7 separate regions of the Homo sapiens genome follow, and regions 2, 3, 4, 5, 6 and 7 are each reported to be linked to region 1. The links are microRNA targets in miRTarBase. Many come from high-throughput screens and were not tested one by one. Region 1 holds a microRNA gene; each other region holds the end of a gene's coding sequence.

Region 1 (4,077 bases):
CAGCATTATTCACAACAGCCAGGAGGAGGAAGCAACCCAACTGTCCATCAATGGATGGCTAGATAAAATGCGGTATATACATACAACGGAATATTATTCAGCCTGAAAAAGGAAGAAAATCCTGTCAACAACTACAACATGAATGAACCTTGCGGACTCTACACTGAGTGAAATAAGCCAGTCGCAAAAAGACAAATACTTCTATGAGGTTTCTAACATGATCAAATTCACTGAAACAGAAAGCAGCACGTTGGTCACAAGGGGCTGGGAAGTGAGAGGAAAGGGGAGCAGTTGTTTATTCGGTATAGGATTTCAGTTTTGCAAGACGAAAGTGTTCTGAAGATTTGTTTCACAACAATATGAATACATTTCACACTCCTGAACTGTACATTTAAAGATGGTGAAGATGGCAAAGGGGTCATACTTTTGAAACTAGTATCTACAAATAAAGATAGGGTAATGTCCTTTTATAAGGGCTAGTGAAACTATTAGATTTTAATAGAGTGGCAACAAATGAACTGGTAACTAAACTCATAAATGGACAGTATTATTACATAATCCACTTTCATTCTGAAATCTCTGCAGAAATAAAACACTGCATTAGAATAAGCTTATTTATTGCAGACAAAATATACAAATCACATGACTCAACTTACTCAAGTCTCTAAAGCCAGCCTAATCTTGGGCCCCAGTTTTTCTCATGCACAAGGAAAGCAGATGAGTTCTCTGATCCCGTAAGAAATAACTGCAGGGGTTTAGACTGGTATGAAGTCTCTATGGACTAGCAGTGTCATCTCAGATCCCACACACCTTAGAATCATGAATGAACTGAAACCACTATGGACCTGAATACCTGGGCTCTGATTATAATCAAACCATATCCCGTCTACTCAAAAAATTTTCAAACTTAAGCACAAAAAACTGGAATACAAAAGCAAGTTTTCAAATTGCTCTCACCTAAATCACAGAGTGAAATTAAGCAGACTTTATCTTCCTTTATACAAAAATAATCACCAGGTATGTTTTGGGAGTAAATTTTAAACAAATGTGCAGTTCATGGACTTTTGTTAAGATACAACTTTAAATATTTAGCTCTAAAGAAACAATACATCAGCTGAAATTCAAAATTAGTAAAAACTTTTCTGCTTTCAATAATTTTTAAATCTTTAAGCCATCCTTCAAAGATACTACCAAGTATCTATCAGCACTAGACCAATGATTTCTATATTACATTGCGAGTATCAATTATAAAATGCACTATTTCATGTGTCAGAACACAGAAACACTGTCAATTAAAAATGACATATACCAGATATTGAAATATTTAACAGTTGGTATTTTAGAACAAATATAATACAGTACGTACATGCTTGTCCCTCTGAATAATCCAAAAGTACAGGAACCTAATCTATGTATCAACTACAGGGGGGGACACCAAACCCCTAGAGACTCAAACTTTTTTAAATGCATGAAAAGTCAATATAAACTACCAGTTCAAAGAATCAATCAATAAATGATCAATGCAGACTGAAAATCCAAAGACACTTGGCACCCCAAACAGATAACTAGATAACTCACTGCGGCCTAAACAAGTGATTTCCAAATTAAGGAAGTGAAAAATCTAAGCACTCAATGACTCCAAACAGCTCAGGTGGCCAAGACCCCTGTTCTCCTTTAATCCAGTGGTCCACAGGTACCAACTCAGAAGACAGAGTGCCACTTACTGAGAGAAAAAACCTTTCAGTAAGTGGCACTCTGTCTTCTGAGTCGGATTTTTCTGCAAACACTATGGACACAATGAACTGGTTTAGCTTAGGGCAGTTTACAAGCTTAAAGTACATTTATGACACTGTTTCAAAACAATGGTAGAGTTGCAAAATACAAAGAAAATCTTATCAGACTAAACATTTTCAGACTAAGTATTAAAAGTTATTCAGGAAACACAAGAGAATGTATTTATTCCGTAGTATCAACAATTATAGCATGGAAACACACAGAACCTCTATTAAACGTTATCTATTTCAAAACTCCTAAAATCTATTACTTGTCTTACACCAAAATGTGATATAGTACCACATCCTATAGAACATTAAATATAAGTAAATTTAAATGTCAAAGTAAATTCACAACCAATGAAATTAGAAGATTCACAAATATAAACTTAGTAATTAGGAAGCTAACTCTAGGCCAGACGCGGTGGCTCACGCCTGTAATCCCAACATTTTGGGAGGCCGAGGTGGGTGGATCACGAGGTCAGGAGATCGAGACCATCCTGGCTTACACAGTGAAACCCCGTCTTTACTAAAAATACAATACAAAAAATAAAAAATTAGCCGGACGTGGTGGTGGGCACCTTTGGTCCCAGCTACTCAGGAGGCTGAGGCAGGAGAATGGCGTGAACCTGGCAGGCGGAGCTTGCAGTGAGCGGAGATCTCGCCACTGCACTCCAGCCTGGGTGACAGAGTGAGACTCTGCCTCAAAAAAAAAAAAAAAAAAAAAGAGAAGAAAGCTAACTCTATCAAAGTTCAATTGTACGTAAGAATAGACACATTCAAAACAGGCAAGGCAGAATAGGTCAAAAATGTCTCTGAACACAGCAAACCCATCCCCAATCTAGACAGAAATATAAATGTAGATTCTGTTATTTCACTAACGATTTAATTTTCTTAAGTTACAGCCATCACACAAAGAAAAGTCTGCAGTCTATCTATCTGCCTATCTATACATATATGTATATATATATCTCTATACTGTTGCGAAAAAACATACTTTTTTTGCAACAGTAACTGCACCAAATTACTAGGCTCAATGTTGATTTAGAAAACAAATAACTAAAAAATGCTTTTTGCTGTTTTTCCAGAGGAATCCAATTTGATCATCCATTCGGACCTTAAACCTCAGAAATTCAAATGTGTAAAAAATGTCCATCAATGTAAACAAAAATGGCAAAATGTGAATTTCTGGAGCTGGGTAACAGTTAAAAGGCAGTTCATTACACTGTGCTATGTATCCTTATGTTTTTAAAAGTCTATTAAAATGTTACATTTTTCAAAATTGTTCAGGTGCATCAAGTGGTCTTTACAAAAATCTTTCATTCTAAAACCGTAGAGAGCATCCATTTATCAATAATGTACCTGACAGGACACACTGACTTGAAAGTAGTCTTCAAATCACACCAACAATTATTCTATCAACAGATAGATGTAAGGCCATATCTGACTGGAAGTTACTGAAGAAATAAATGTAATATAATTAAGTATATGTCTTCTTATGTTAAAATGTTATATAGTTGATAACTAAAACAAAAAAAAAAAACTTCATTCTTAGAATTGGAAGAGACAAACTTTCTAGTTCGGTGGTTTGCAAACTTTTTGAGGTACCTGGACAAAAGAGCCAGACAAGTCACCTTGTTTTATACATAGGAGATTATACACAAAATATGAGATGATGCTTTTAAAAATGATTTATCTACTTAAAAAAGGCTTTAAACCCATTCTGTCATTTCAACAGCTACATTCTACAGCTAATATGGTGGCATAGAAAAGATTAAATGACTTGGGATATATCATTCAATTAGTGGCAAAAGAACTCAGGACTCTTATTTTTCCAGTTCTTTCAAACAATGCACCACTTCAAATTAAGTTACAATTAAGAATAAAACTTTCCATTTTCTTGCCTGTAAAATACGGTTACTAGACAAGATCATCTCTAAGATTATTTTCCAGGTCTAAAATTCTGACTCCATGAATGCCAAGCTCAAACAGAAATCTACATTAAGGGAATGAATGTTCTTCAACACAGCAGAACCCTTCACACGCTTTCAATGACTTCAGAGACATGCCAGTCAAATACAGAAACAAGCTCACAGTAACTCAGTCATACCTTTTAGGTCCTTAAACATCTGTGCAACATCTTTTAATAGTTAATGCTATTAAGATGTGAAACAATGTTCTCAAAAGCCACTGAAATAATCCTGAAAGTTTTTTGGTTACTAGTTATTTTAAGAAAGGACACTGGCCTATGAAAAACACACAACTCACTGAAGATGTTCAAGTTACCGAATGCCTCAGAGAATTA
Region 2 (4,063 bases), not on the chromosome of region 1:
CAAACCTGCAGTGAGCTATAATAGCGCCACTGCACTCCAACCTGGGTGACAGAGTGAGACCCTGTCTCAAAAAACAAAAAAGTACAAGGACCCCAGGTTCACGGTTCCCTCATGGCTGTTATTCCAGTGAAAGGGGAACTCTGTGCAGCTGAAGGCAGTGGTGGCTGACCAGCAGACCCCAGGGCGAGGAAGACTCATCATCCTTCTGGAAGGCACTGGGGAGCCACACCCCACTGGGCCCCCTCACCTGCACTTGTGCTTTGGGAAGGTGGCCCTACCTGGGTTTACATTGCCAGTCTGGAGTTCCTTCATGATGCCTGTGGTGTGGCTCCCATATGCTCTGTCCCCTCAGCCGCCTCGTGCCTGGCCTGGCCCCTTCTCGTCACTTCAGGTCATTTTCTCCAAAAGTCCCAGGAAATAGGAAAGAAAAACGACTTTGTTTATTTACTCTCTGTTGCCTTTTGGACCCCGATTCCTGGAGCAGTATATTGGGTGCAAGGGGGCCAGGAAGAGGCTCTGGTATTTGTGTCATCTGAGAGAGATAAGGGCCCCTGACTTGGGGTTAACACTCATTTCCCAGCTGTCAGGTCACGGGGATCAGAGAAGGAGGCATGAAAGGAGAATACCTCAGAGAAGGTGGTTTTGTTTTTGTTTTTGGTTTCTGTTTTTTAAATGGAGACAGGGTCTCGCTATATTGCCCAGGCTGGTCTTGAACTTCTGGGCTCCAGCCCTTAGCCCACCTCGACCTCCCAAAGTGCTGGATTACAGGAGAGAAGACGTTTTTTGCTATTAGAAGAACCCTAGTGCTGAAACCCCAGAGTTGGGGGGAAGGGTACTAACCTCTTGGCTTTTAAGGAGGGACTCACTCCGGGGGCAGGTATATGCTGAGTGTATAGAGAGGCAGAGAGGCATGGGCTTTGGAAATCAAATGCTCCTGGGTTCCAATCCTGTTTTCCCCATATTCCCAAGTGGTGTGCCCTTGGCCAGGTTGCTTAACCTCCCTGAACCTGAGTTGCTGCCCCTACTTAGTTGACAAATATTTACTGAGCACCAATCTAGGCACCAGAAGTGACCAGTCCAAGTCCTGGCTCACATGGGGCACGTGGCCATGTCTGAGAACATGGGGATGAGAATGCCTGCCTTGTGGGAGCAGGTGGGATGCTTAATCCAGGTAACCTCTAAGTGCCCCTTAGTGTTTAAATGAGAGTGACTAAAAATAGATGGGCTGAGGGGAGGATACCTTCAGCCCGGGAGCTGGAGACCAGCCTGGGCAACATAGCGAACCCTGTTTCAAAAAAAGAGAGAGATGAATAGATGGGTGCTTTTTGGGAGGAGGGTGATCCTGTCCGCTGCTCAGGTTGGGGCCCCTAGGAACGGGGAAGGGAAGCAGGCATGGGGAGCAGTGGCCAGGAAGCCCCTGAATGCCTGGGGTCCTGTGGTGGGGGAGGGGGTGGGGCTCCACCTGCATGCAAGATTTGCTTCAGGACCACCCCTCCCCCCACTTCCAGTGAACCTGGCTAGACTGAGGTCATAGGTCACCACTAGGACCCCATGTCTGGGCTTTCTCGGAACGACTCCCTGCCAAGGAACCAGAGCGCCTCTAATAGCCTGGAGCCTCTAAAAGCTTTGACCACAGCTCAGCTTGCTCCCTGCAAGCCCTTTGAAGCGCTTCCTTCGAACTTGCTTTGCATATTCTGGTCAGATCTGAATCAGACTTGCAGGAATTACCCCTCTCGGTAAGTCTAGGTGGCTGCCTTAGCTTGTCAGTGACACACGAGGCAGGCGTGCTGACGTAAGGCTGAGACGTATTCGATTCCACCCTCTGCGGCTCTCTTCCTCCTCTCCGATGCAGAGTGTGGGTGTGGGTGAAAGAGAAAGCAAGGCACGGGGCGGGGGGCGGGGGGGCAGGGGTGCAGAAAAGGCTCAAGTCATGTTTTTCATTAAAAAATAGTGCTCTTTATTATAAATTACTGAAATGTTTCTTTTCTGAATATAAATATAAATATGTGCAAAGTTTGACTTGGATTGGGATTTTGTTGAGTTCTTCAAGCATCTCCTAATAGCCTCAAGGGCCTGAGTAGGGGGGAGGAGAGAGGACTGGAGGTGGAATCTTTATAAAAGACAGAGTGATTGAGGCAGATTGTAAACATTATTAAAAAACAAGAAACAAACAAAAAAATAGAGAAAAAAACCACCCCAACACACAACTGCCCTGTCCAGCCCAATACCTGACACAGAATACTTTGTGTTTGTTTAGTTGCCCCCCCCCACAAAAACAAAAACAAAAACAAAAACAAAAAACTGTTCCAGGTAATTCCATCGCTGCTACATTCCTGTAAATTGTCACTGATCAGTGCTATGGCAGAGCGGGAGCACCCGGGGTGGCAGCAGTCCAGCCTCTCCAATGACCTCCAGCCTCCCCCACCCAGGCAGGAGGGAGGGCTGTGCAGGGCTCGGGGCAGTGGGACCTGGTGGCTCTGCTCTGACCACGAGGCGCCTGACTGGCCAATACTTACTGGGCTGACATTCCCAGTGCTCAGCTGGGAGGCATGGGTTTCCGCCCCCCCTCCCCACTTCCCTGGCTGTGGGCTGGCTTGGTGCCCTCCAGTGAGTCCCTCAGCCTCTCCACCCATCCAGGCTGAGTATGTGGCTTTCCTATGCTGGGTCCCTCTCCATGGGACAGGGAGCATTTAAGGCGAATCTCTTAGCCAGACATAGTCAGGAGGCACAGAGTAGAATCCCCTGTCTTCTCTACCAGGAGCCTGAGGTGAAAGATGTCCCGTCTCCTCCATCCTCCCGCTCCATCCACCCAGGTACAGGAAGGTATAGTATGAGTAGGAAAAGGAGACCAGCTGACCAGCCCATCCATCCCCTCCAAATGTTGCTTCCCCCTTAAAACGGAGGAAGGGCCCTGGGCTCTCAGGCACCAGGTAGACTTTGGAACCTGTGTTTTCGGTGACTGTCCCGGAGGAGAGGATGTGGGGTACCAGGATGGTTCCCTTCAGGTCACCCCAAGCCCTTCTCCCCGGAGCCAGGGAGAGGAGCATGTCACCAGGATCCTCGCCTGGGGTGGGCGGGGGGTGTGACCATTTCCTTCGCCAGCCCGCAGCCCTGGGGCCCTCAGGACCTCTCTCTCTTCCACCTTTCCCAGGCTCCACAACCAGCTCAGGTTTAAACCAAATCAAAGAGCAAACAAGTTCCGTTGGAAAGTTTGAAGATTCCCTGGCAGTTCTCATTAGTTCAGCATTCCCGAAGTGTCCCCTGTTTGGAGGCAGAGGGGAAGCTGAGGAATTGAAGGAGAATCCACTTGTGGTTGCTATCGTCCCACCAGGACAGCTGGCTCCTCCGGAGAAGCTGGAGACTCAGGTGGTACTCCCCCTTCCCTCCAACACATTCCAGGTCCGCCTGCCACATTCTGCAGGGAGAGGGCAGAGGGAGGGGCCTGTCCGCCCTCTTTCCCCCCAGAGCTACAGGACTCTCTCCTGGTTGGCTTCTTGTGCTTGTGCCATGTGCCACGGAGGAGAGGGGCCTGCGTCCCCTCTCCCGACCCATGCCCTTTGCGCCCTTTACCCCTTAAAGCGGGGCATCGTACTGGTCCAGGAACTCCCGAATGGGCCCCGGCAGCTGGGTGACTTTCTCATAGGAGTCCAGGTGGCCGTTGACGGTCTTCCGACAGAGATGCTGAAGAGTGGCCACGTTGGAGGAGAGGGGCCGGCTCAACACCAGGGGGATCTTCTCGCCCCCGGAGTAGATGTAATAGGCTCTTCTGGGGGGACTCCCAGGGAGTGGCTGGGCAGACGGCTGCTCGGGCACCTCGGAGGAGGGTTCAGTAGGTGGCGAGGGGAAGGAGGGGGCTCCAGGGGGCGGCATGTAGTGGTGCACCAGCTTGAGCACGCAGTCGAAGCGGGGCACGGGCTGCGTGCTCCGGGGATCGCTCTGCAGAGAGAAGCTGCCCCCCTCACACTGGATGCGCAGGTTCTTGGTCCCAGACTGGGTCTTGACGCTGAGCGTGAAGAAGTGGCGCTGGTCCGAGCTGTCGCGGATCAGAAAGGTGCCGGCGGGC
Region 3 (4,077 bases), not on the chromosome of region 1:
TTTAGAGAAGGAGCTGAAAATGACATATAACATTGTATTTTGGCATGGATTCTGAGTTTGCAAACACAAAAATTTGTGTATGCAAAAAAATATAGGCACGATTTGAAAACTGTCAAGCTACTGACATACGGCACATATGCCACACATGCACACATGCACACATGCACACACACACAGAGTCTGTTTTCAAATTCATCTGAAAGGCTCTGTAGCTCTGAGCTCTCACTACATTCAGTTCTATCTGACTCAACATAGCCTGCAAACTGGGCAATGATATCTTTCGATAGCAATTCTGTTCCTGGGATTTGTTTGAAAGCGTTTAGGTTTTCACGGATCACTGGAGGTTCTTCATTTTTCCCCCTTCTGTGTTATGGAGGTATAAGTCGTCTCTCTAGCCATAAACTGGCCACTGGTAAAAATCAATTTTGATTTTATCAGTATGTATTACTGCTGGTGCCAGCAGTTCAGAAGACGAGAGAAGGAAAACATGCAAACTAGGAGGAGAAAAAAGTTAAAGCCAGTTCCTCACACCTACAAATAAAAAAGCCTGCTGTCTTTAAGAGGTATTTTGTATCGTGCCAAGGAAGCTTAAGTTACCAATTTAAAACTTCAATCAATAAAAACTTTCAGGATTCTGTCACCGCTTCCATCTCTTCTGCATTTGTGAGCACTATGGCTGGCATTTCTGAAGCCAGGGCCGCCCTCTCTGAGGTGCTGTGGAGCCAGTAACCACAGGAGCAGACTGGAGGGCAGCCTGGCAGCAGCTCCCCCATGCACACTGCCCAGCGGCATCCTCCCTAGGCTCGCTCTTTCCATGCCAGTTTCGTCCCGATTATCTGACTCTTAACCCTCTTGGGGCAGGGCAGGCCGTTGTGACAGGCCCCATATTCACCTCCTCTTTGCCTTATTCTTTTTTTCATTATGTAATTCTAGGGAAAACACCCTAAATGTGCATGCATCTCCAAGTCCTCCAGGAGCCACGCGTGCTCCACATTCTTTCTTTTCCTGGCACATTTTTGGCTGCCAGGATGACTGAGAAAATAATCAACCTTCCCATCAGTCACCTGTTTCTCTTCCTGAGCAGTTTCCTTCTGCCACTCAGTCAAAAGGCCCACAAACATGTTCACCAAGTCCTAACCTCTAGAAGGGAGAGAGACTTCAGAGACTGATTTTTAGCTGCAACCAAAATGTCCACATCCTCTGAGAAGCTGAACACCTTCTCCTAGATGTACACAAAACTCTAAATCACCTTCAAAGGTCTAAAACAGAGTAGTTTCTCAGATATTCTTTTTAAGAACTGTTACAGACTCACAAGCCAAATCCCATGACCCGGCTGTTTTTGTGAATAAAGTTTTATCAAAACACACGGCCATATCCTTTAAAAATAAATAGAGCCCTGCTCTAGTGTAATGGGACTGTACTGTACCCCTAGGCACTGTTGGGGACCACCTAAGCACTCTCCTATCAAAGACATGAGGGCCTGGAAGCTACAGGACTTAACTGGCTGCAGCAACTACAATTAGTAAATTTTAGTCCCCTCACGGAAAGTCAGGTGGCAGAAGGCACATGCCTTACAGCTCGGTCTTTTCACTCCCTTTTATAAGTACTGGGGGACACATGGGAAAAATCCTGGAGACGAATTCCTATTGGGGTGGCCTCCCTGTCTGCACACTCAACACAATCCATGGGTGCCTGGGTAACAACTAAGTCTGTTCACCATTTCTGTGAGTACCTGGGATTCAAAGTCAACTTTTTTCATGAAGACAGGAAGTTACTTACTCAGACCAACCATAGACTTCCACTTCTCCAGTTTCAAGGCCCCTGACCCAGCTTGACAGAGCCAGGCTTAGGAGCAACGTGGCTCAACGTATGTGACTTCTAAGGACTGCCTTCCTTCTGATGAACTTGTCCTCTCAAACCTGTGCACAGTGGGACTGTGCCCAGAACGCCCGTTACTAGTCTCAATGGCATGGTTCCCTGACCTAGAAGGGAGGCTGCTTTTTACTGAAGGCCAAAGCAATGGAAGGCCAAGGGTGACCAGGTGCTCAGCTTTTTCAGCAGTTTCATTTTTCATACTGTCAGCTGAAGACAACCAAAAAAAAAATACACACACACACACACACACACACACACACACACACAGAGTTAAATCATGAAACACGTATTTCTCAGTGATAGGGCTCATTTTAAAGTTAACCTTCCAATGGCAAAATAATAAAAATGATAAAATAATAATTCCCCCCATAGAGCAAATGTGACAAAATGACAAAAGAATTCTTAATTTTGGGGCTTTATTATAATTTTTCTTTTCAAGATGCTACATAGTCAAACAGAACTGGGTTGGTCTTTTATGGCATAAAATTAATTCACAGTCAAACTCTCAACTAGTACTAGAAGGATTCGCTGAAGAGTTTCTCTCTTCCCTTGCTCCCCACCCACAACTGCTGGTGCCCTCGCTTCTAACCCTCTGCAGCCCGATCCATTTGTCCTGACTCCAGGCTAGGTCCCCAAGGGGAGGTCAGGCTCAGACTTGGACCTGGGCGCTGGAAGTGTGAGTAATGGTTGAGAGGTGGTATAAGAACAATCTAGAAGACTGACTACTCTTCATTAAAAAAGGTAACCTAGAGTTGACTGTCACTACTGAGAATTTCCCTCCCTATGACAGTTGTTATTTACTGACCCAGAAAAAACACTTCCTGGCAGCTCTTCTCCAGCATCCCAATAAACCCCACCTCCACATGACCAGACTCTCCAGAGACAGAGGAGCCCACAGCCCTCCAGCAGCAATACCAGTTCACCCAACAGAGTTCAGCAGCACGCAGCATTAACTGTACTCTTGTGACAATAAGAAAACATGAGATGAAATACATTAAATAAGTTAAATATGCATTAAACATCTCTGAATAACAGTTTGACTTCACTACATGAACCAATACAAATTTAGCTTGGTCCCTTTAAGTGAACAAAGCACTGCCATTTATTTCCAAAGCGCTGGGTCAATCAGTCAACACACGCCTCTCACTTATGACGAGTACGTCTGATGCTGCCACAGTGCAATTCCTTTGGGCTTCTGACTCTGTTCATCAGTCCCAAGGAGCTGATGGCTTGGACAGAACTGAAGACACGGAAAGCAGCCTGGGCCGGGAGTGGGCCACGTGGGGACTACTGTGTGGAGCTGACCGCACTCCCCAGCATGCTGGGCTCCAGCTCCCCAAGGGCCAGCACCAACAGGCGAGGAAGGGTGTCATTTTAAGAGAGGTAATCCAGCATCATGTACCAAGGCCTACCAATGTTTAAAATGACATTTACAATATGCCATTGTGGCATTACTCATGGTTTCCCTTGTCATTAATAAAGATCATTCTTTTCCCCCTCAATCAGTTACTATACATTTTTAACTTTCTAAAAGATCGTTACATTATATTTGTGTGTGTGTATCTGTGTATGTGTGTGCAGGGAGGGGTAATTTAAAGGCAAGACCTGTGAGATGTCATCATACATTAATTTCTTTTTACACATGGTTATGATAAATTTAAATCCCATGATATGGTGGATCCACCAATCCAATTTACCATCCTGTGCATGCTACCTCTACAAGGCAATCTTCCCAATAATTACACCAACGATAAAGAACAAAACCACCAGAGCCAAGAGCCGGGTGCTAAGGCCTTCTTCCTTCCCAGTTGGGGCTAATGCTGAAATGGGGCTGTTGCTCTGCACTGTCTTCCTCATCCGCAGTCCATCTTCTTCCTACGGGAGCAAACGCACATTTCAAAGACAAGCCAAGGCACCAGAAAGGGGAGTCAACTGTACAGCTTAACGGGATGGGCTGTTTATGCCCAGTGTTGGATGACATGATATGGTCCAACCGCATTTTGCAAACGGAGAAACTGCAGGCTACAGAGGGGAAAGGGCTAGCCTGAAGCCACTGAGAAAACAGTCCCCTCTTTTCTTTCATCCATTCCACTTGCTGCTGCTAGTTACAACAGACATCTAAACAGGGTGCTCCTTGGTTTCCCGTGATTTACAGAAAAAAGCACTTAAAAGGGTCAACTGGGCCCTTTGCACCCTCGGCCC
Region 4 (4,077 bases), not on the chromosome of region 1:
GGGGGACCAAGTCAGCTCTGAATGGGAAGCCAAAAGAGAATAGAACCAGGACTCAAGATTAGGGGAGCTGGGATTTCCTTATTCCTCTGTCCCCATGCCCAACCCCAGGCTCTTCTGAGAAACTGTGAAGAGAACCACTTACTGGATCTGTGGGATCCCCCAGTGGAAAGGGCAGTGTGGGTCACTCCAAATGTCCATAGGGAGGATGTGGGGAAGGTGCTATTCATCTTCCACTAATCACATATTTGTTTCTTTTTGTTTTCAGGGCAATTCCTTGAAGAGCTACGTAAGTTCTCTTCTCTCTGTTATAAGCAGAGAATAAAAAGCCAGGAAAGGGAGACAGAAGCAACAAGAGGAAGAGGCGGGCTATTGAGGGATCACATTCCCAGAGGAAAGGAGGAGCTGGAGAGCCTGGGTGGAGGGAAGACTCCTCCTGGGAGGTAGAGGGCAAAGAAGCCAGCTGTTAGAGACACATTTACAGGTGGCAGAGAAGCTGGAGGCACTCCTATCTGCCACCTGATCCATTCCTCCTTCACTGCCCCTAAGCAGGAATCCAACCCTAGCTGGTCTCATTGCCCATTCCACAGCAACTGCCCAGTGCCTCACCTCTCAGATCAACCATTGAGGCAGGAATGGAGACAAGATGACCCCAAGGGCTTTTCTTCTCCCTAGTTCAATGGTTTTATGATACAAACTACTGACATACGTTTTTCAAGTTATTTTCTCCTTCTTCTAGGAAATCCCTTCTGAGTGATGTCACATCTTGGCAGGGGTGGAGGAGAGCCTGGTTGCCCAGGGATTTGTCCTTGGGGACATCTCATCCATCAAGTTGCACACTCACTGGCATCTTTGCTATGGGGACATTCCAATTTGCACTTTCAGGAACACTCTGAATTCCAAGTAGAATTGATTTCCCTTCTTCTGTCATCTACCTTTTCTCTTCATTTTCCCATTTTTATTACCCTTCTTTCCATTTCTCTCTCCAGTCTTCCACCTGGAAGCCCTCTCTGGCTAAGGACAGGCAGGTGCCCCTCTCTCCATCAGAGGACACCTGTACTGGAGAGCAACACAGGATGGTCTCTGCCATGAACTGGAGGCCAGGAATCTCCTCACTGAAAATTACAGTATGGTAACTTTGCAAATGGTGGTTGTTTCTTCCAAGACTCCAGCCCTGATTGCGCAAAACTGAAAGGCATGTGAAGGGAAGGAAGAGGAAGAGTGCAAAACATTGAAGAGAGAGCTGAGTGAGCTGAAGAGTGAGGATATGAGTAGCCCCAACCCAAACCTGGAGATGGGGAGAAACCTACAGAATACTAGCCAGAGCTCCTCCTTGTCTTGGCAGCCTACTAGGGACCTGGGGAAGCAAAAACGAAAGCTGGGCAACATGCCTGCTTTAGAATGTTTTCCTTCTACTTACACATCTTCCACAGGTCTCAGAATCTTTCCTTCCTCTCATCCTTTTCTCCTATCTTCATATCTATCAGAGTATCCACTGTTTATTCAACAACTACTACTTGATGGTCAGACACAAACAAACAAGCTAGGTGCTAATTAATAAAGATACGAGTTTTGGCCGGGTGCGGTGGCTCACGCCTGTAATCCCAGCACTTTGGGAGGCCGAGGCGGGCGAATCACGAGGTCAGGAGTTCAAGACCAGCCTGGCCAACATGGTGAAACCCCATCTCTACTAAAAATACAAACAATTAACTGAGCATAGTGGTGGGCACCTATAATACCAGCTACTCCGGAGGCTGAGGCAGGAGAATCGCTTGAACCCAGGAGGCAGAGGTTGCAGTGAGCTGAGATCGTGCCACTGCACTCTAGCCGGAGTGACAGAGTAAGACTCTGTCTCAAAAATAAATAAATAAATAAATAAATAAATAAATAAATAAATAAATAAAAAATAATAATACAAGTTTTCATAAGCACACTTCTAACCCCTTGTCTTTTATGTATTTCCTTCCTTATCCACGCACCTGTCTCCCTCTACTCCAGCCTCATTACCCCAGAGGTCAGTCCTCAGGAAAACTAAACACAAAGAAAGAGCTCAGTCAGAAAGGCCATTTATTTATGTTTCAAGATGCTCACTGCCTCCTTTGTTTTGTCTCCTTTGCAGGCCTTCTCTCTTAGGCCTCTTCTCCTGGGGGTATGGATCCTGGGGGGAGATTGATCACCTCCATGCTTCCATTCCTCCCCAGCCATAGTGGGGACATCATGAGAGAAGCCAAGCCACTGGCCCAGGATCACCCGGCATTTATGGTGGCTGCTCTGGCACAGGTCCTTGCCTTTATAGCCCCTCCAGTGATCCATAAGGCCCTCTTTCTCCCCAAAGGAGAGGTCACAGATAGGGCAAAGGTAGCTCTTCTGCTTCCAGTGGGTCTGCTGGTGTCTGACCAGCCTGGAAAATGAGCTGAAAGACTTGCTGCAATGGAAGCAGTAGTTGGGCGGCTCTGTGAGGTGGGCCTTCTGGTGTCTGGAGAGATAGGATTTCTTGCTAAAAGTCAAAGAACAATGGGGGCAACAGAAGACATTGAGTCTTGAGGGCTTCACTGGATGAGAGTTGGATCTGGCATCCTGACAGAGGGTTCCAGTGATGGGTGCCTGGGTCCTGGTCACAGGTGCTTGGTTCTTAAGTACAGATGCCTGGTTCTGGGCCATAGGACCCTCAGTTCTAAATATGGGTTCCTGGGACCTGGCCACTGGTGCATGGTTCACATCCAAAAGCCCCTGGATGGACCTCTGGCTTCTGGCGATGGGTGTCTGGAATTCAGCCTGGGTGCCTGGAATCCTCAAAGTACACTCCTGGTTTCCATCCACTGGCTCCTGGTTTTGGTGTATCTTCTGGTGGCGTTTGAGCTCAGACTGGTCCCGGAAGCTCTTCCCACACACAGAGCATGAATGGGGCCGGTAACCCAGATGGACGCGGCGGTGACGACTTAGTCCAGAAGCATCACAGTAGGTCTTGTCACAGAGCGTGCAACAGAAGGGCCTCTCCCCAAGATGCATGCGTCTGTGATAGCTGAGGGACTTGGGGCTCCGAAACAACTTCCCACACTGACTGCAGCTGTTAGTCAGCTTGGGATTGTGAACAAACTGGTGGCTATAGAGGTAGGAGCGCCTGCTGAAACATTTGCCACAGGTGTAGCAAAAAAAGGGTGGCCCAGCCTGGGATGCTTGAAGCACCCGGGTCCTGTCCATAGTCCCAGCTGGGGCAGATAGGGGGCACTGGCCGGCCCCTCTGCATGCAAGGAAGACCTTGTCATCACTAGTCCCCTCATCTCTCAGACTGGGATGTTGTTCTCGAAGCTCTTTCTTCTTGCCTTCTACAGTGAATGAGGAAGAATAACACAAAATTCACTGTAAGAACTCCAACAGAGGCTTGGCATGGTGGCTCACACCTGTAATCCCAGCACTTTGGGAGGCCGAGGCCAGCGGATCACCTGAGGTTAGGAGTTCGAAACCAGCCTGACCAACATGGTGAAACCCTGTCTCTACTACAAATACAAAAATTAGCTGGGCGTCATGGCATCTGCCTGTAATCTCAGCTACTAGGGAGACTGAGGCAGGACAATCACTCGAACCCGGGAGGCGGAGGTTGCAGTGAGCCAAGATGGTGCCACTGCACTCCTGCCTGGGCAACTAGAGTGAAACTCTGTCTCAAAAAAAAAAAAAGAAAGAAAGAAAAAGAAGAAGAAGAAGGAGAAGGAGAAGAAGGAGAAGGAGAAGAGAAGGAGAAGAAGAAGAAGAAGGAAGAAGAAGAAGAAGAAAAGAAAAGAAGAAGAAGAAGAAGACGAAGACGAAGAAGAAGAAGAAGAGGAAGAAGAAGAACTCCAACACAGCACTCCATTCAGCCTAACACACTTCTTGTCTCTGCCCTTGCTCTCCCACCCAACACATTCATCCTTACCCTTGGGCCTCATAGGCTAGAAATAAGAAGAAAAAAAGAAAAAATTGGCTTTTCAAATTAGAAGCAAATAAAAAGTTAACTGGAATCTTTCAACACTGTCAGAAATGTAAATTTTAACTTACAACAACACTTCTTGAAATCTATCTTATCTCATTCTCAATATTGCTCAA
Region 5 (4,077 bases), not on the chromosome of region 1:
AGGTGTGAGCCACCGCAGCCAGCCAGTTGATTGACTTTGAATTACGAGCTCTTATGCCCCGGGCATGTCCTGTCTCATTGCTCTCTTTCTGGCACAGACCAAGTACGATGCAAACCAGCAAGCCAGGAAGCACCTCCTCCCCGTCACCACAGCAGACCTGAGCAGCAAGGAGCGTCACCGGAGCCCACTGGAGAAGCCCCACAACGGCCTCCTCTTCCCCCAGCACGGGGACTATCAGTACGGCCGCAACAACATCTTAACAGACCACTTCCAATACAGCCGGCAGAGCTACCCAAACTCGTACAGTTTGAACCGCTATGATGTGTAGAGTCCAAAGGACAGGACCAGACTGTTGGTGACTCCTTCCCCGGCCCCCACAGCAGTATCAGAAACTTCTGACAATCAGTGAATGTACAACCCAGCCGAGGGGACGGTGCATAACTCTCCATCAGAAGCCCTGGGGTTCCTGGCCCCCCGTGAGCCGCAGGAGGATGCGTTGCCTGCAGTGCAGACGGCCGTGAGCTCTGGGCAAACCTAAACAGAGACCAGTGTCTCATGCTCTTTCTTCCTGGAGTCTGTCATCTGAGGGCCGTGTCCCTGCGGAGATCTTGGCCACGTTGTACCTTTCCATGTGGAATTATTCCCCAAGCAGTGTAGCTCAGAGCACTTGTGTCTGCATTCCAGATAACATTCAGGACCTGTGTGAAAAGCTGGGGTCACTGTGGCTGTAGACCATGAACTGGCAGTGGGGGTGTCCAGGGCGGTGCTTGAGAACGTCAGACTGGCTAGTTTAATTCCCTGGCGCAGATACGCATAGGACCAACAGGGTCACCAAGCAGACAGGGAGCCCGCGAGAATCATTCAAAACATCCCCAGCCACAGAGATGGATCCAGTTTCCTGGTCATCCCCTTAGCAGTTCACAAGTTCCTGGCAAATGTTCCAAAGCAAAAAGCGATTGCAATTAGCATCCAGTTCCTGCAGCCTGGTGCTCTGCCCTGCACGTCAGGGTTGGCATCCACCCAGATCCAGATGGAAGGGAAACTTCTCTCTTCTCCTTTGCCTCCTCTTCCCTCACCAGAGCAGGGCGCTTCTCTTGGGGTGGTGAGAAGGATCTTCGAGAAATCGTGTTCAGTATTTCAAGCTCTATTTCTGTGGCACATGTCTTTTGAGAGGCATCTTCACCTCTTCTGTGATGACTTGGTATGTTGTTTGGTAGAGAGATCTTGATTTTCGGAGGATCTTGCATTTTTCTAGGGAATATTTTGTAGTTGTGTGTGTGTGTTTTTGCCTTGGTCCCCATTATGGGATGCATTAGGACTGGCCTATGCATCGAAAATCTTTTTGTTTGTAAACGTTTAAAAACAAAGTTCCCCGGCCAGGCACAGTGGCTCACACCTGTAATCCCAGCACTTTGGGAGGCCAAGATGGGCGGATCACGAGGTCAGGAGTTCGAGACCAGCCTGGCCAACATAGTGAAACCCCATCTCTACTAAAAATACAGAAATTAGCCGGGCATGGTGTCGCGTGCCTGTAGTCCCAGCTCCTCAGGCTGCTGAGGCAGGCGAATTGCTTGAACCTGGGAGGCAGAAGTTGTGGTGAGCCGAGATTGTGCACTCCAGCCTGGGTAACAGAGCGAGACTCCATCTCAAAAAAAAAAACAAAACAAAACCAAGTTCCCACTGGTGATGCCTGTCTGACACGTTTTGGTATTTAGTAGGAAATGAAGTGTTTCGAAGCTTCGAGAGAAGCTTCAAAATTGTCACAATTGCTGAAAACAGAATGAATCGTGAACATTATCTCAATATTTTGTATAATAGACAAGACCACAGTGTTTTGGTTCCCTGACCTGTTTTTGTGTTTATGTTAGGATCTGAATCATGTTCTGGGTAAGGGGACGAGGAGCGAACACTGCACTAAGATTTGGTTTGCCAAATCAGATTCTTTGGTCAAGAGTCAGTTTGGGGCCAGGCGTGGTGGCTCATGCCTGTAATCTCAGCACTTTGGGAGGCTGAGGTGGGTGGATCACTGGAGTTTGAGACCACCCTGGCCAACATGGTGAAACCCCATCTCTACTAAAACAAAAATTAGCCAGGCATGGTGGCACCTGCCTGTAATCCCAGCTACTTGGGAGGCTGAGGCAGGAGAATCACTTGAGCCCAGGAGGTGGAGGTTTCAGCGAGCTGAGATCACACCACTGCACTCCAGCCTTGGTGACAGAGTGAGACTCTGTCTCAAAAAAAAAAAAAAAAAAAAGGAATCAGTTTGGGTCTTGGCAGAAATCAACATAAGGAATATGACAAGACCCCAGTAGGTAACCCTGAGTGCTCAGGTCCGAGCTGTGGTCTCTTTTACGGCTTCATGAAAGGACCGTGCCCTCACGGAGGGGACCACGGCTTGGCTTGTGGGGTCTTAGGTGATGGCTGCCTTCTTTCTTCATCACCACACCCAGCTTCTTGCTGGCACTTAGGGGAAGAGAGCAGCAAATGAGAGATTTACCTTTTATCTCCCAGCGAGCGAGATGTTTCCCTGTTCAGAGAGGAAGTAACATCACTTATGCTTGACTGGTGTTTCTTTTGTTGTTGTTTGTTTTTCTTTCAATTGGAATTCTGTATTTAAGATGTTATGTCAGCTGACACATGGGACACTCCTGAAGAGGTGACTGGCCCCCCACCCTGTTTGGCGGTGAGTTTCCGCACCACCGGCCTCAGAAGTGTCCCTCTTGCTTCGTCTCTTGTTCGCTTGCTTTGTAAATACTTTGGTCCCAAGCTGAGACAATTGCTGTGTAAAACGTGAAGAGTCAATCCCAAAGGGTGTTATTTGTCAGAAGAACTTGCCGTGTGCCTTCACCGAAGGCAGTCAAGTCTGCAGTTGGATTTTTCTCACTGGTGAATGACAAGAAACAGGGATAATTTTGCACTGCGGAGATATTACGGGAGTTGTCTATATGATTATATATAGTACCTGATTCTTTGAACATATTATTGAACTCCAAAATGAATTCGACCTCCATTCAGGCTTCCTGAAATCTCTGAAGTTGCTGAAATTTGTATATTATTTTCCTTTTCCAATGCAAGATCTGCTGGTGACGGGAAATGACTGTCTGGTTTTATTATGGTTTATAAATTAATAAATGGGCTATTTAATTCTGTATATAAATTTACAGCAAGTACGTACACTGGAATGAATGAGGCAATCACGTTACACCAAATCAGCAGATCAAAAGACAAACACATATTTCTGAGACTTGAAGGTCCACATCCCCCCGCCCCCTGCCAAGATGGAGTCTTGCTTTGTTGCTCAGGCTGGAGTGCAGTGGCGCAGTCTCAGCTCACTACAACCTCCATCCCCCGGGTTCAGGTGATTCTCGTGCCTCAGCCTCCCGAGTAGCTGGGATTACAGGCATGCACCACCACGGCTGGCTAATTTTTTGTGTTTTTAGTAGAGACAGGGTTTCACCATGTTGGCCAGGCTGGTCTCGAACTCCTGGCCTCAAATGATCCGCCCACCTTGGCCTCCCAAAGTGCTAGGATGACAGGCATGAGCCACCGTGCCCAGCCTGATTGACAATGGCCTCTTGAAGGCTGGGTTTTCCCAGCCGGACAGTGCCCGCCCCACATGCTCCACTCCCACGCTTTCATCTGCAGGCCTGCCTTCCTCTCAGCCACCTCACTGCTGAGCTCTGTGGTAGAGAATTTCCTTTACCCATCAGGGTATGGTCTGGCTGGTAATACTGACTCCAACCCAGCTCCTTCATTTTATAGAAGGAGGCATTTCTGAATCATGTTTGTTCACCATGGCGAGACTCACTGCAGAATTTTTAACCACCTTATTTTAAGTCATTCATTCTAGGAACAGTCAAGCCCCTACCACAAAGGGGCCAGATCCGTTCAAGTGAGGAAGCACTTGCAGTTTCTGAATTTTGCTGTATATTTGTCCTATGTCACCCAACAGGCCCTTTGCTATAGCTGGGACATTACCAGACCCCAATACCTTAGGGTCTCACAGCCTGAAGGACACAGAGCATTGAATTATTAAAAGACCTGAAAATATTATAATGTTTTTCAATTGTCACCTGT
Region 6 (4,000 bases), not on the chromosome of region 1:
ATTGTTTTGGCAATTAGTCCAGGCCCTTTGTATTTCCATGTAACTTTTTAGAATACATTTGTAAATTTTTATTTAAAAGATTAGGTTTTTATTAGGATAGTTAAAGGAAAACTGACAACTTCAAAGTATTAAGTCTCAGATTCAGGAACTTCTTGTGTCATTTATTTATGCCTTGTTTAATGTCTCTCAGGAATGTTTTAAAGTTCTTGAACATATTTTGTTAAATTTATTTCTAAATATTTCATATTTTTATGCTATTGTGAAGTACATTTTTTCAGTTGCCAAGCATGTATTTGCTAGCTATATACCAACCTAGTAGAGACACCTACTTTTTATACACTGGCCTTTTTATCTTAGGACCTTGCTAAACTCAATTATTAGATCTAGTAGCTTTTTAGTAGATAATTTCGAATTTTCAACATTATCATGTCATATGTAAATACAGACAGTTTGGGTTCTGCCTTTACAATCATTAGATTTTTTTTTTAATGAGAAGTGATGAATGTTGACGTATTTATGTTATTCCTAATGTTGGGGAAAATCAGCTTATCAAATATTTGATCACATATATATCAAATGTGCTGTTAGCTGTTTTTCATAGATGTGCTGTATCAGGTTGAAGAAATCACCATCTTGTTTAATTTGTTGCATGTATCATAACCTAGTTTTGAATTTTGTAAAATGCTTTTATTACATTTTGAGATTTTCATTTTAGTCTGCTAATATAGATTAATAAAGAGTTTGAATTGTTGAATCAAACTTGTATTATTGATAAACCTCACTAGGTTATGATTTATTATTGTTTGTATATGGCTGGATTCAATTTGCTAAATGTCTTTTTGTTTTGTTTTAGCATGAGTGCAAGTTTATTTAAAAAGGCTTTAGAACAGGAAAGAAAGGCAAGTATGCTTGGAAGAGACCCAAGGGGGTGATTTGAAGGACGAGTGCCTCAATTTGCTAAAATTTTCTTAAGGCTCTGTGTCTATATTCATGTGATTATTGGTCTATAGTTTTGTTTAATGTCATTGCCTGCTTTAGTGTCCTGTTAATGCTAACTTTCATATAGTCCAGAATTCTTTGAACCTTTGTCCTCTTGGAAGTTTGTATACAATTGGTATTACTTCTTCCTTTTTCATAAAAGTTCTTATATATCCTAGGAATGACCCTCAGCTGATGCCATCAAGAAAAAGGAATCTCAGTCCTACAACCACGAAGAACTTAAATATGCTAACAACTGAAATAAGCAAGAAACAGATCCTCCCTGAGACTCTAGAAAGGAACATAATCATGCCAACACTTTGATTTTAACCCAGTGAGACTTCTGTTATATTTGTGTTGTTTAAACCATAAGTTTGTGGTGATTTGTCAGGATAGCAATAAAAAGCTAATATGTCAACATTATTCTGTGAACATTTATTTATTTTCCAATGCAGTATTTCCTCAAATCATGTTGTACCTTTTCTGCCACAACTTGAAAACAGCCTCTTCTCTAAGGAGTTCTGGTTCCTTTTATTAAAAAATGATATAAACCAATAACTGGGTATTAAATGTGCTCAAAACTACTGGAATGCCATGGCTTGCTAGGCTCTCAGTAAAGATAGGGAATATGTACACATTTATCTATATATTGAATTATTTATTTGTAGTTAAACCTACAAATATTTCAGAAGTTGGATATTTAAAAAGATTCATAAGATTACAGTAGCATACTCACATAAGGCTTTTTTTTTTTTTTTTTTTTTTTTTTTTTTTTTTTTTTTTTTTTGAGACAGAGTCTGGCTTTGTGCCCCAGGCTGGAGTGCAGTGGCGCAATCTCGGCTCACTGCAAGCTCCGCCTCCCGGGCTCACACCATTCTCCTGCCTCAGCCTCCAGGATAGCTGGAACTACAGGCAGCCGCCACCACGCCCAGCTAATTTTTTGTATTTTTAGTTGAGAGGGAGTTTCACTGTGTTAGCCAGGATGGTCTCAATCTCCTGACCTCGTGATCCACCCGCCTTGGCCTCCCAAAGTGTTGGGATTACAGGCGTGAGCCACCGCACTCAGTCAAGGCTTTTATTTATAGGCAAAGATATGGTATAGTAAGAGGATGCAACACCAAATGCACAATGAATAAAATAACAAATGGATAAATTGGGCTCCATAAAATTAAGACAATCTGCTCTAGGAAAGATACTGTTAAGAACTGAAAACAAGGCCAAGCATGGTGGCTCATGCCTGTAATCCCAGCACTTTGGGAGGCTGAGGCAGGATGATCACTTGAGGCCAGGAGTTAGAGACTAGTCTGTGCAACATAGCACGACCTCATCTCTAAATTTTAAAAAAGAAAAGAAAACAAAAGCCATGGACCATGAGAAAATATTGACAATGCTTATATCAAATAAGGAATTTGTCTCCAGAAATATTAAGAACTTGTAACCAACCAAATGTTTTAAAAAACAGGCAAAAAATACATTTGACTAAAGAAGATATATGGGTGACAAGTAAACACATTAAAAAATGCTCAAAACTGAGTCATCGGAAAAATACAAATTAAGAACTACAATGAAATACTACTTCACACTTAGTAACATGGCTAAAATGAATGGCCTATGACTTCTACACATATAAACTGTCAGTAATGTGAAGAAATGGAAAATCTAATATATTCCAGGAGGAAATATGAAATGCTAACCATTTAGAACACAATTTGGCAAGTTCTTAAAATTTGAAACATTTGGATCAACTTACAGAATAACTGAATGAGGAGCTTTGCAGACCTGTTACACAGCCAAAAGGGTGAAAATTATAAAAACACAATTCAGTCTCTGGAAATGGTCATAAGGGTGTATGGGAAATAAATATTTATTAAAGAAGATCTAACATTCACAAGAACAGCAAAAGTGAGTCACATTTGAACCAAGACCACTCCTTTCCTCCCCCAACTCCAAACTCAGCGAGATCAAAACTCCATTCGACGGGTACAGCCAAGAATACAGGGCTCCCTCTCTCTGGAGCTCCAAGGCAGAGGGCTGTCTTCTCAGGAAGGACAATCTGTCAGGAATTCTCATCTTGCCTCCAGTGTGCATATTTAGATGAATGATGTTCAATTGCCAGCTCCCTCATAAAGGCCATCCTCAGAGTTTCTGTTTTAAGTGAGGTCATATTGATTCAGAGACAGTACATAACCTGTCACCCTAAGGCCTTTCTCCAGTGTAAACTTTCTGGTGTTGAATAGGGTTAGGCCTTTGGCTGAAACCTTTTTCCATATTCACTACATTGTCCACATTGTAAACTGTCCAGTGTTGAATGAGACTGGAGGTGTGGCTAACGGATTTCCATCTGTTACCTTCAAGATTTTTTCCACTGTGAACTTTCTGGTGTTGAATGAGGTTGAAACGCTGGCTAAAGGATTTCACACAATCACTGCATTTCTCCAGTGTGAATCCTTCGATGTTTAAAAAGACTGGAGTTGTGGCGAAAAAACTTCCCACATTCCCTGCACTCATAAGGCTTTGCTCCAGTGTGAACCCTCTGATGTTTAACAAGGCTGGAATTCTCTCTAAACAATCTCCCACATTCATTGCACTTAAAAGGCTTTTCTCCAATGTGAACTTTTCGATGTTGCATGAGGGTTGAGCTTTGGCTAAAAAATTTCCCACATTCCCTGCACTCATAAGGCTTTGCTCCAGTGTGAACCCTCTGATGTCTAACTAGGGTGGAATTCTCTCTAAAGAATCTCCCACATTCATTGCACTTAAAAGGCTTTTCTCCAGTGTGAACTTTTTGATGTTGCATGAGGCTTGAGCATTGGGTAAAAAATTTCCCACAGTCGCTGCACTTGTAAGGCCTTTCTCCAGTATGAACACGCCAATGTTTGATAAGGTTGGACTTGTGGCTATAGAATTTTCCACATTCACTGCACTTATAAGGTCTTTCTCCAGTGTGAATTCTCTGATGTTTCATGAGGCTGGAGTTGAAACTAAACAATTTTCCACATTCACTGCACTCATAAGGCCTTAC
Region 7 (4,077 bases), not on the chromosome of region 1:
ATAGCAAGATCCTATCTGTACAAAAATAAATAAACAAAAATATTGGCCAGGCCTAGTGGCACACACCTGGTAAGCACTGGCTACTCAGGAGGCTGAGGCAGGAGGATCACTTAAGCCAGGAGGTCAAGGCTGTAGTGAGCTAAGATCATGCCACAGCACTCCAGCCTGGGCAACAGAGTGAGACCCTGTCTCAAAAAAAAAAAAAATCACCCTGACTGCAGGGAGAAAAACAGAGGGGAGGGTGCCAAGCAGATGGAGGAAGCCAGCTTAGAGCTGCGGCAGGAGGCCAGCTGCCTGGATGATGGCCCTGGATACTGCAGGTGTGGTAAAGTGCACACATCCAGAGAGGTTTAGGATACTTAGAGCTGATGTTCATTCAATTTGTAGGAAATAGTCTTAGCTATAGCTGGGTAGGACCCCATTTCGGAATGTTAAGCTAAATATGAAAACTTATGACTGACTAAATTTTCCATTTTTTTCTCCTATGTAGGCAACTGATTGAAGGAACAGAAGTGCTTAAACAACTAGAATTAGTTCCAACACAGAATGAAAGACCAATACATATGTGTAGAATTACTGACAGTGGAGATCCTTATGCTTGATTTTCATATCAATATTTTCTGTGATAATTTATTACTTTGTATCTGATCAGCTGTTTGTGGATTTAATTAAAAAGTACTTGATAAATTGTAATTTGAAAGCCGTGGCAGACACTGTAGGTTGCCTCATCTACACCCAATCCCTCCCCATCTTCCTTTCCTGTCTCTGTCATAGAGACTGTGAAAGGGTGGTACTCAATTTCCTAGACTCCTTTGCAGCCACGGGTGGCCATGAGAGATGGTTCTGGCCAGTGGGACAGGAATAGAACGCCAGTGGTCCTGCCCCTTCCCCTTCATCCAGTCTGGAATGTGGAGAGGCTGGAGCTACAGCTGTCATCTTGTGGCCATAAAGAAAAGGCTGAGGCCAGGTGTGGTAGCTCACGCCTGTAATCCCAGCACTTGGGAGGCCGAGGCAGGTGGATCACAAGATCAAGAGATTGAGACCATCCTGGCCAACATGGTGAAACCCTGTCTCTACTAAAACTACAGAAATTAGCTGGGCATGGTGGCATGCACTTGTAGTCCCAGCTACTTGGGAAGCTGAGGCAGAAGAATCTCTTGAACCCGGGAGGCGGAGGTTGCAGTGAGCCGAGATGCCGCCACTGCACTCCAGCCTGGCGACAGAGAGAGACTGTCTCAAAAAAAAAGAAAGGCCAAGTACTGCAGAGATGTCAGCCCCAGTCTCTTGAGCTGCGGGACCAATACCAGCAACCACCTACTCTGGACTTCTTATTATAGGAGACTAACAGAGCCCTGTGTTGTGTTGTTTATGTTACTGTTGGTTGAGAATTTTGTTACTTGTGGACAAAAAATTCTTAATTTAGCAACACACCTGATAGCCTAAGACATTTGTAATAGAATTATGTTCTTGTTTGTAACTACATGTACTCCTAGGAGAAACTTGGTAAGTAACCAAATAGGAATGATGCAGAAGAAAAAGCAATTCATTGTAATATTTCATTGTTTATACCAGCATTCAGAAAGAGTATCTACACTTTGGATGTTTTCATATATGACATGAACATCATCCTTATCTCTCTGAGCCATACCAACCCTATGAAAACCAAGGGCTTGTTTTACAGTGTCCGTGGTGGCTGACTCATGTGATGTTATTGGAGATTCAGCTTTATCACTACTCTGTAATCTAAAGTTCTCAAGCTCATATCACCTGGGGAGCTTTTAAAATGTAACCTAACAGACCTTGTCCTTGACCTACTGAGGCAGAGTTCCCAGGCGTGGGGCAGAGATTCTGTGTTCATTTGGTTCTTTCCCCAGGGTTCCCAGGCGTGGGGCACAGATTCTGTGTTCATTTAGCTCTTTCCCCAGGGTTCCCATTTAGACAGCTGGGCACTAGTCATCTGGGAATCACTGCAAGACATAAGGAACTGGTTCCAGTCCCCATGGTGTAATGTAGTCAGCAGAGTGCTTGACTCTGCTATTGGTGACCTTGCTCAGCTCCTGTTACCACCACTACCCTGTGCCCCTGCTCTGCCCAGACTAAGAGTGCTTTTCTTTTTTTTTTTTTTTTTTTTTTTTTTTTTGAGACGGAATCTCACTCTGTCGCCCAGGCTGGAGTGCAGTGGCACAATCTCGGCTCACTGCAAGCTCTGCCTCCCTGATTCATGCCATTCTCCTGCCTCAGCCTCCCGAGTAGCTGGGACTACAGGCGCCTGCCACCACGCCTGGCTAATTTTTTGTATTTTTAGTAGAGATGGGATTTCACCATGTTAGCCAGGATGGTCCCGATCTTGTGACCTCGTGATCCGCCCGCCTCGGCCTCCCAAAGTGCTGAGATTACAAAGGCGTGAGCCACCGCACCCGGCTGAGAGTGCTTTTCTTACCCTAAGCAGAATGAGGTTTGTCTTCCAAGAACAATCTCTATTTACATCAGTCTTAAAGAGGCAGGCTTCTAATGGATATGAGGCTTGCCAAAAGTAGGCGTAGGCTTTTTTAACTTTTTATTTTGAAATATAGATTCACAGGAAGTTGCAAAAATAGTACAGAGCAGTCCTGTGTACCTTTCACCCATTTTCCCCAGTGGCTACGCTTACAAAACGGTAGTACAATATCAAACCAGGCAGCTGACATTGGTACAATGTGTGTGATGCCATTTTATCATGAGTATATTCATGTAACCAACACTATAGAGAAAATATAGAACCTTTCCAGCACCTCAAAGACCCCCTTCCAGTACCCCTTTACAGTCAACCCACTCCCCTGCCCTCTGCCATCCCTAACTCCTGACAACTGGCATTTGCTTTTCCTTTTAATGACAGCTTTATTGCTATATGACATATGCTTTATGCTAAGACCTGAGGTGGATGGGAGGAAGCAGACCGCCTATGTTACATTCTCAACTGACCCAGAGCAACATAGTGTTAAGAATGTGTGTTCTAGGGCCAGAATCCTGGCTCTGCCATTCCCTAGCTGCACAAACTCAGGCAAGAACTTTTCTGTGCCTCAATTCCTTCATCTGAGAAACAGTGGTACCTACCACATAAGATTGCTGTGAGGGTTCCATGAATCAATAATTTCTATAAAGAACCTATAAGAGACCTGGTCTGCTGTAAGCACTCGATAAATTTAATAATAAATTACTAATGTGTAACCTTCAGGGTGTAGCCTCAGAGCTTGGACTTTTTGAAAGCTCTCCAATGACTTTGATAGCCAGATTTGGGAATCCCTGAGGAGAGTCTCCCTCTTCCTGTACTCACAGACTTCTGGGCAGTCTGAGAACTCGGGTGATTTGTCTAGAGCTTCCAGACCCTCTCGCTGGGCCTTTGCCCAGGTTCCTCAGGTCACACTGGGGACATCTCAGACAAAAGGGAGCTGGGCTTGCCACCAGGATTCAAAACAATTGGTGAATGAAAACTGATTCTTTGCAAGGAGCCCGGTTAAAACACATGACAAGCGTTACTCATGTAATAACAAACAGCAGGGCAGTTCTTACTGGTGATGAACCTATATATTAATGGCATTAGGCATTTTATCTGATGTTGTGAAAGAACTGGGATATTTGTGTGGGTGTAAGAAACTGATTCCAGCTCCCTTTGTCAGCAGCAATAGAAAGGTAGAACTCTGCCAGTCTTCTCAAGGATGGCGAGTTCATGGTCCCTTTGTTCACTCTAACTTTCCACTTCTGGGCTGTGGAAACCTCAACCACAGATCCATGCAGTGGTTCTTATCACCAGCACTTAAAAGTATACACACTGATACTTCTGTGCTAGAATGATTTGTATGTTTAACCTCATAGTTGAAGAAACTGATTGTTAGAAGGACTCAAAAGTTTACTCCAATGAACTCCACATGTAAGACTTTGATTTAACCAAACTGAAATACACTAATTAAACAGAAGGGATTCTAGATTTTTCCACATCTACAAATAGGACAATAAAGGCCTTCTGATGATTTACACAAAATGCTAAGTTATATGTCTAAACTTGCCCTAATTGCTGATATGGCAAAGTCAAGTACATAC

The links. Region 1 holds the annotated microRNA hsa-miR-4797-5p (GACAGAGUGCCACUUACUGAA, at 1,740-1,760, opposite strand). A microRNA usually pairs through its seed, bases 2 to 8, with sites in the 3' UTR of a target mRNA and lowers its output. Matches are read on the target gene's strand: a 7mer-m8 pairs with bases 2 to 8, a 7mer-A1 pairs with bases 2 to 7 and ends in A, and an 8mer does both.
Region 2: miRTarBase lists SOCS3 as a target of hsa-miR-4797-5p. Seed matches in the 3' UTR shown: 7mer-m8 at 2,728-2,734 and 7mer-m8 at 2,122-2,128.
Region 3: miRTarBase lists VAPB as a target of hsa-miR-4797-5p. Seed matches in the 3' UTR shown: 7mer-m8 at 2,802-2,808, 7mer-m8 at 2,140-2,146, 7mer-m8 at 1,265-1,271 and 7mer-m8 at 174-180.
Region 4: miRTarBase lists MOG as a target of hsa-miR-4797-5p. Seed matches in the 3' UTR shown: 7mer-m8 at 1,843-1,849.
Region 5: miRTarBase lists SLC35E1 as a target of hsa-miR-4797-5p. Seed matches in the 3' UTR shown: 7mer-m8 at 2,225-2,231.
Region 6: the mRNA of ZNF419 is a reported target of hsa-miR-4797-5p. Seed matches in the 3' UTR shown: 7mer-m8 at 1,769-1,775.
Region 7: miRTarBase lists PPIL6 as a target of hsa-miR-4797-5p. Seed matches in the 3' UTR shown: 8mer at 1,734-1,741 and 7mer-m8 at 2,154-2,160.

The regions. Positions count from the first base shown.
Region 1 is chr3:197,292,180-197,296,256 of GRCh38, forward strand. MIR4797 (microRNA 4797) reads right to left here and starts at 1,769; the gene lies at 1,699-1,769. All of the region lies in intron 3 of DLG1 (discs large MAGUK scaffold protein 1), which reads right to left.
Region 2 is chr17:78,354,845-78,358,907 of GRCh38, forward strand. SOCS3 (suppressor of cytokine signaling 3) reads right to left here. Exons shown (of 2, transcript NM_003955.5): 2 at 1,934-4,063. The coding sequence ends at 3,574. Among named protein-coding and RNA genes, the nearest start is that of SOCS3, 3.2 kb to the right of the region's middle. RefSeq lists enhancers at 1-237, 561-610, 1,436-1,935, 1,993-2,642 and a silencer at 1,670-1,857.
Region 3 is chr20:58,443,750-58,447,826 of GRCh38, reverse strand. VAPB (VAMP associated protein B and C) reads right to left here. Exons shown (of 6, transcript NM_004738.5): 6 at 1-3,750. The coding sequence ends at 3,592. Among named protein-coding and RNA genes, the nearest start is that of VAPB, 57 kb to the right of the region's middle. RefSeq lists an enhancer at 849-1,350.
Region 4 is chr6:29,670,436-29,674,512 of GRCh38, forward strand. It overlaps MOG (myelin oligodendrocyte glycoprotein), which reads left to right. Exons shown (of 8, transcript NM_206809.4): 7 at 266-286; 8 at 737-1,930. The coding sequence ends at 750. ZFP57 (ZFP57 zinc finger protein) reads right to left here. Exons shown (of 5, transcript NM_001109809.5): 5 at 2,048-3,323. The coding sequence ends at 2,065. Among named protein-coding and RNA genes, the nearest start is that of ZFP57, 8.7 kb to the right of the region's middle.
Region 5 is chr19:16,549,930-16,554,006 of GRCh38, reverse strand. SLC35E1 (solute carrier family 35 member E1) reads left to right here. Exons shown (of 6, transcript NM_024881.5): 6 at 98-4,077. The coding sequence ends at 328. Among named protein-coding and RNA genes, the nearest start is that of CHERP, 9.5 kb to the right of the region's middle.
Region 6 is chr19:57,493,491-57,497,490 of GRCh38, reverse strand. ZNF419 (zinc finger protein 419) reads right to left here. Exons shown (of 5, transcript NM_024691.4): 5 at 1,393-4,000. The coding sequence ends at 3,401. Among named protein-coding and RNA genes, the nearest start is that of ZNF773, 4.4 kb to the left of the region's middle.
Region 7 is chr6:109,389,351-109,393,427 of GRCh38, reverse strand. It overlaps PPIL6 (peptidylprolyl isomerase like 6), which reads left to right. Exons shown (of 8, transcript NM_173672.5): 8 at 491-3,213. The coding sequence ends at 602. Among named protein-coding and RNA genes, the nearest start is that of CD164, 8.9 kb to the right of the region's middle.